Linked DNA regions of Homo sapiens. The protein of the gene in region 1 purifies or fractionates together with the protein of each later gene. This does not show direct contact. Each region holds a gene or a part of one and is shown on either strand. Other genes may lie near its edges.

Evidence for each region.
Region 2: the proteins of GPATCH2 (region 1) and KCNJ10 purify together in Homo sapiens (affinity purification with mass spectrometry; one large-scale study listed by BioGRID and IntAct). This does not show direct contact.

Annotation. Positions count from the first base shown.
Region 1 is NC_000001.11:217,606,883-217,610,702, reverse strand, and holds part of GPATCH2 (G patch domain-containing protein 2), read left to right. Parts: intron 1-302; coding exon 303-382; intron 383-510; coding exon of another isoform or gene 511-543; exon of another isoform or gene 544-2,514; intron 2,515-3,820. UniProt on the Homo sapiens protein: Enhances the ATPase activity of DHX15 in vitro.
Region 2 is NC_000001.11:160,060,034-160,063,853, reverse strand, and holds part of KCNJ10 (ATP-sensitive inward rectifier potassium channel 10), read left to right. Parts: intron 1-3,820. UniProt on the Homo sapiens protein: May be responsible for potassium buffering action of glial cells in the brain. Inward rectifier potassium channels are characterized by a greater tendency to allow potassium to flow into the cell rather than out of it.

The DNA.
Region 1 (3,820 bases):
CTTTCTTGCTAGGCTCATTGAGAAAATGTTGAAATGATAAGAATGTTAATTCGGAAAAAAGAAAATGGGTATTTATTACTCTAGTGATTGAACACTGGTTAGTTAAGTGCTGACTGCCTTAGTACTTTGCTAGGCATTGCTTCAGTTTTTTTAAGTGTGAGTTTTGCATTTTCCCAAATAATATTCGTGGCATTCACCGCCACCACCAACTTACTTTTCTTTCTCTATTGATAGGATCCTCTTCTTCTTCTATGCTTCAGTGATCATAGAAAACTTCTAAATTGAGTACTTTGATTTTACAGGTTTCCAAGCTAGACTCAGTCGCCTTCATGGAATGTCTTCAAAGAATATTAAAAAATCTGGAGGGACTCCAACTTCAATGGTAGGCATACTTTTTCTGTGTAATTGTCATGTTTGGAAATGTTTCCATTTCTATGGAATAAAAAGCCACATCCTCATCCTTTATTCATATTCTAATGTTAAACTTAAAAATAATCCATTTTTTTGTAGGCTACAAACTGGACCAGTGAGATTCCCCTATAAACCAAATCTTCTAATGCTAATAAATTAGTTACGTTTTGAACATCTGGGGAATGACATTCGAGGGAACCTGGCTCCTGTCCTCTTCCCTGGAGGAATATCATTGAAGTGAGAGCCTCTTTGATGAAAAGATGGGGCTGTTTTTGCTGGAGGACTGGTATTCTTCCTTTTAGTCAGAAGTGAACCTGACTGGGGAGGCTTTCTAGGGATTTAGGTTGGCCCAGGGTGGATAGAAACTACTGTAAATTATATATTTTTCTCTTTTATGGTTTTTTTTTTACATTGAATCCATTTATGTATACTTGCTTTGCCAAAATGCTAACAAAGCTAGAAAATTTTAAACTTCCAGATCGACAAGTATTCCTTAATGTTTATATTGTGACTGATTAAGAATTAATTTTTACATATCTGACTGTTGTAAATAAAAATCATGATGCATTGACATTTATGGTTCATTTTTAGAGAAGTCTTATATAACCAGCATTATTTAAAATATTTGCATTTTACTCAGGGTATTTTAACAAGGGCTAAGATGAGTAGTAGGTAAGGTTGATAATCTTTGCTGGAGTTTGTATTTTGTTCAGCTTCCTTTCTACTTGGGTAATCTGCTTGTATTGCAAACTCATTGTATTTTATAGTATAGCTTTCATTGTACTGCAAAAATCATCCTCGTTTTAAATTAGCCACAGTGATAACTAGTCTGCACTAGTAGAATCATTTACCTTTTAAATTATCTGCTTTGTCTGATACCTGAAACACATCAAAATTATTATTTTGGTTTAGAGCTTAATGAAACATGTGAAAGCTGGTATTTTTAACAAATGCTGTGTGATTCTGAATCATATTGTCATGTTTAAAAGTGAGAGCTGCTTGTACATCTTTAGAATGGCAGACCATATGTGTCACTGTGAGTGTCAGAAATACTTGCATGAGCTCATTTTCACCAACTGGGGGGAAAATGTAATGTTTCTATTGATGGTATAATTTAGACACTATAATAAGTTCAGCCATTTGAGTTCTTCAAAATGGTTATATTAAAATGATATTTTTATTAAGCTTCAATAATGAAAAACAATGTGATTTAATATGTGTATTTTTATATTATTGTATGGATTAATTGTTAATTCAGCATTTAATGGCTAACTTAAATATGATTGGAAAAGAAACTTCAAGTTGCCATTGCTTTTACCTAAAGTTTTTAAAGTCTGAAAGATTTCAGCAAATGCATTAAACAGGAATGTGTGACATCTTCTTTTAGATTGCTTGTCTAATTTGGAGAGATTAAAAATGGTAAAATGCAACTTTGAGTCTCTTTACCTTTGCATATTTAAAGGTACAATAGTGTGGTGTTGGTAATTGTAAGTAAGCTTTTCTGTGCTATGTCTTTGGAGTGAAAATTCATGTTTTTTTTCTGAATTACATAAATGCTTTTGTTTTATTTTGTATAATGACTGTCTTTTAGATCTGAATAAGTCACTTTAAAACCTTGGCCTATGAACTTTGCCTTATCAATCATGAATCTAGATGAATGCTATCTAGTTCTTGGTTCAGTTTTACCTATTTTTATTTTTGGTTCACTGCTTGCTTGAGCATAGCTGGGATTTGTAGCCCATTTTCTAGGCTTATTGCAATCTCACTGTGGTATTTTATAGAAGCTATTACAACTGATAGGCTAGCTTCATGGTATTGATGATACATGGCTTAACCATACTAAAAGCTGCTTTCCCTCTCTAAATTGTAAAAAGGTGATGAAGTTTCACTTGATGGAGACATACTATATATGTGTGTTTATCATGGAACTAGTGCATTAGGCCATAAGCTGTTTTTCTGGTCTATGTTTTTTGTATTTAAAACTTTACTGAAGACAATGGACTCCTTCGGGTTTTCTTTCTTTCAACCCTGAATTGTCCTTGTTTGAATTTTTAAGTACTGTAATTTTTTTTTTTCAATAAAATCTCTGACTTGGGCAAGAAAGGTAAGAGTTCCAATTTGTGCTGCTATTTCTCTGATTTCATTTGCTAAGTTTTCATTGTTGTTGTTGTTGCTTATGCTGTTTATATTATGTATAACTATAATATCTAGTTTTAAAAATCATAATCTCACAAAACAGTCATCTTTACACAGTATCCATGACATCTGGTAATAAGAAGTGAAATTTAATTGCCTTAAACTTTCACACTGGAAAGCCAGATTGTTTTTAAGAGAGATTAATTTTCTGAGCAAAGTAAAACACATGGAGCTGCAACCCATTAAACAGAAGGCCAACAAAAGGTTTCTTAAGCAGATGAATGATGACTGCATAAATATAATGATGTAGTATCTTTGAAGGAAATGACAGAGGAAGAATCTTTTACTGAAATATCAATGTAAACATTTTTTGGGGGAAAGTTTTCAGTTGTATTATAGTTGATTCTGACTATTTGCCATAACTGTATTCTATACACTTGCTGAAAACATTGAATTAGGGAATACTGAATCATGGCTCCTAAGGGAAAGACAGGGTTAGGTTCCTGGAAGCCTCTGGTCACAACATTTTCACCAACTGATCAATAGATAACCTTGTTTTGTTTATGTTTGTGTTTAGAGACATTTAATATATATTGTTGACTTACTAACATCGAACTCATGGCCAATAGCACTATAACTTACGGCTGAACAAAGCTTATCAAGTCTTTTCTCTATAAGGCACATCCCAGCCTTCTTGCACTTAGGAGCACTAGACGGCATTTCTCAGCACTATACAAGGGGCTATTTAAAACAGAATAATCACCCACAAAAAGCACAACAATTCAAAAAAAAATCTGGTACTAATTTAGACTACAAAAGGGACATATGTTTACAGTATGATAGTTTAAACGAGTAGGAAGAAAGTCACCTGACTGACCTCTGGTAGGAATGCACGTGTATGTCGGGCAACTCAACATTTTTCACTGCTCTGTACATGTTACTGAATGACTACAAAAGTCAGAAATTGTGAGTATTGATTTTGGGGTTAACAAATAAATTTTAGCAGGCAGGCCGACTTAAAAATATGGAATCCACAATGGGAACGAGATTGACTGTATTTAGTTTTATAGAGAGCAAAGTGATATTGCAGAAAATTTATAGATTTTGAAGTCAGACCTTTGTGAATCCACACTCTGATTCTTCTTTTTAGTTGTAGTTAGATTTTGAACCTCCTTCCCTCCTTTTGTTTAATACCAACAATACTTACTTTTGCATAAGTGTCGTCAGGTTTTTAAATGAGATTGTGTATGCATAATGGGCCCAGCACCATCTC
Region 2 (3,820 bases), about 58 Mb from region 1:
AATTCCGGAGCCTTGCCCCTGAATCCACTGCGCATTGTCCCGAAGGCAGGGAGCTGCAGAGGAGATCCATCCAATGCTACACATAGGAGCTCGGCCCAGAGAGGGAAAGTGACCTGTGCAAGTTCCCAGAGAGAGTTGACAGGGTTGTTGGGCCCCGAACCCAGGAGTTCTAAGGCCTAGCTCCATCTCTGCTCTCCCCGCCAGAATTTTTTTGTGGAGAGTGGAGGAGCAAGGTCCTAAGACGGGGAAAGAAGCAGACTTTACCTTTCTTTTCCCCAGCAATCTCAGGTGAGCCCAGGGCCAGGGCAGTACAGTGGGAAGCCTTGAGGGCAGACAGCAGGGAGAACTTCCGATACTGACAGCAACTGAAAAGAGGAGAAAGAAAGCTAGGAAGACATTTTCAAGCCCAGAGATTGTTCTGTCTTGCCGTGTGGGGAGCAGTTCTGCAAAGTGTCCCCGGCCTTCTCTTCCTGGGGCTCGTAGGAAGTCTGTGATTGGGCAACCCTGCTTCTCATGAGGTGCTCAGTCCCGCTCACTGCCCTCCTCTCAGCTCTCCCACCACCCAAGGCCCAGGAGCCCCTCCCCAGATCATGCCTTCTGGCCCTGCCCTTTGTGCTGAGGCACCACAAGGCACAACATGGTGCCTTGGAAAAGCCAGTTGGTGGTGCTGAGGGCATTAATGAGGATAGGGGTGCCTGCTGGGGTTCCCTGGGCAGGAGAAGGGAAGCTTCTCCTCACAGATTGTAGAACAGGAGGAGGCAGATGGGGAGTTAGACATATACTGGGAAGAGCTAGTCCTGGCTCATTGGCCCTTCAGTCAAATTCCCCTGAGCTGGGCTTCCAGCTCCACCTTCACTAGTTCAGGTTGAATTCCCTGGAAGAGCACAGGTGGCAGGCGACTCTTGTCCCTAACCCCTGCTTCCCCTGTAGTAGCTTCTTCAGCCTCCAGAACCAGAGCAGGTGGAGATCTCAAAGAAGGTGGCACCCCAAGGAAGTAGAACCCCAAAGACCCCAAACCCTGAGCACATGCCCTTCCTGCTGGGGTTGGGGAACTTGCTATGTATTACTCTGTTTTTCTTCTCCTGCCCACAAAATTCCTTTGCATAGATGGTAAAACTGAGGCAAAACGTGGGAGGACTTAGACTGCCCACCCACTTCTTTCTAGAGCCCAGCCTGGGACCAAGGGGCTTGGCATCCCGCAGCCCCTCCCGCTCCACTCCTACCAGTCCCCGTGGCTTTTTCCATTTGGAAAGTCCTTTCTGGCGAGTGGCAGGTTTGGAGGCCCTAGTCTAGTCTCCTCCCCTGTCTCCTGGGCAGTGCCCCCAGGGGAGCCCCTGTGGGCCAAGATCTCCTTAGTCTCAGTCCTGGGCCCCCCTCACCCTCTACCAGCAGTCCCCCAGCTCCCGCCCCTCGGCTGTGGGACAGGGAGAGGGCTGAGGGGCTGGCTCTGCATACTAATGTCCTGCCCATTGTCAAAGCCCCTTTGTGCCAGGGAGCTCCATTGAGGCGGCTCCGGGGCAGGCACAATGGGGGCTCTGTCCCCTAGTTCCCCCAAACAGTCACCTGCTTTCAGAGCCTTCCCCACCACCCCCCCTTCGCCCCAGTGTCCGGAGGGCCCAGAGAGCACGGGGGAGTGGGCCCTGGGCCAGGGGGGATGGGCAGGAGGTGACTCCCCCACTCTCTGGGCAGGCTGGGGAGATGGGCATTTGACAGGGCAGGCTGCAGAGGGCACACAGAGGGGAGAGGCCCTAGGCTCACAGGGGCAGGGGCAGTCTGTGGAGGAGTTGGAATGCAGGTTCTCTGAGGCCTGAGAAGGGGAAGGGGCACTCAGAGCCTGCCCACTTCTCGGTTCCGTATGCCCAGCCTGGACCTGTGGCTGCCACCTCTCCTCCTCCCACTACAGGACTCCCCGGGGCTCATATATGCAGAGACACACAGGCATACACTCATCTATGCGGCCCCACACACGGCTCCCAACACACACCCAAACGGATGTGCCCAGACACAACACACTGACCCCAGCACACAGATCGCACGTCCACAACACCACCTCCTGGCATATGCACCTGCACACCCACCCTCCCTCCACCCCACCCCCCTTTCCCTTTTGCACCCCCTCCACGGCCGCAGGCATCTCAGCACCATGTCCCTCCCCCCCATGCCCTTGCTGCCCTCTGCTGCTCTGACACTGGTTATAACAAGTTTGCACTTGTTGTGACCTTAAGAATGTGGCCCTGGGGCTAAGAATGTCCCGCTGCCCCAGACTGCACCTGCTTATACGTTAACCATGGACACAGCCTCTTGCTGCACTCTAAGCAATGCTCCCATTCCTGCCTCAACCATGGAAGCAGTTAGGTGGGCCAGGCCCCCCACCCCAGAGCTGAGTCAAGTACCCTGGACTGAGCTCTATGTGAATAACTAAAGCCCCACCTGGCCTCGCTGGCACAGGTCCAGTGTGTCCGTCTTTGCATTTGCCCAGGGCACATAGATATTTCCTAGCCCTTCCTGGCCCTGGGAGGTAGATGGAACAGTTATCATTTTCCCAGCAAGGCTCTGAGAGGTAAGATGATGGTGTCCAGGCAGCTGGTGGCAAGTCTGGGACTAGAATGGAGGTCTCTCACCGCTAGTTTTTTTGTGTTTTTCCCCCAACTATTTGTCTCTTGGTTTCACTCAGATGACCCCACCCCCAACCCTATCTACAATTCCAACAGAGCTGTCTTTTAGCCACCTTTTTTTGGGAAGGAGTGGGGGCATGGTGAGGGGAAGGGGTGGGGAGAAGAACGGGTCTAGGAGCCTTAAGTGGGCTTCTGGGTCTAGAAAGAACCTCCGAAGGTCACTTTGACCCTTGCACTACCCCTAGGCAGAGTGAGCCTACCTCCTTTCACTTCCCACCCTCCTACCGGCCCCACTCCTGCTACGAACTCTGGATCACTGGAAAGTAACCCCACAGCCTTCTTAGCTAGGGTTTGGAGTTGGGGATCTCTATCAATTATAAGTCCTTCATGCTGCCTAGTACTGGCCTTTCCAGTTATTATCCTACGTCTGCACGAGGATCTGTAGGCTGTATCTACGGCTCACCTGCTATTCTGGTCCAGAGCATCTTCTAGCAGTTGGGAGCAGATGCCCTAAAAAGGGAAGAGAGGAAGGCCCATTGGGATCCCAGAGACTTGAGGGCTGACTGCACAGTGGTGTGCTGGGGCCTGGGAGGGTGGATGGGGTCACAGTTGCAGAAACTCTGTTAGATAGAGAACTAAGCTGATATTGGTTTGCTCATCAGCAAATATTATTGAGTGCTAATCTCCATGATGTTTCCTCCCATCAAAATTGCATGGGAGAACCTCAGGGCCCTTCTACTCCTTCTCCTTTCCCCTCATCTAAAATGCTTCCCCTCTGGCTACTGGATTCTCCTTAAGCCGCCTCATCCATCTGTCTTCCTTCATGCAGGAACACACCTCCCCCAGCCCTTATACTCTGGTGTGATTCTTTTGCTCCAAATGTTCCCTACTGGAGAAAGAGAACTGCTCAATGTATGTAACTTCAGCTTTCCCTGCTGTGCTCGGGCAGTTAGTTACTATAGGAGACAGAGGACAGTGAGACACTCACCTCTGAATCTAGTTCTGTATCTAGTAAGTGTCCTCATGCCATCCCTACCCCATCCTCCTTCTTAAGGGAGGAATGTGGATAAGGAATAAGTAAAAAGTTGAGAGGGGGCAGAGAGATTGCCTCCCAGAGTCATGGTGAGCTCCCTAGACTCCTCTGAGTGAGGGTCAGAGGCTGCTCTTCATGCAGGGAACAGGAGCCCCAAGAAGGAAAGGGAGCT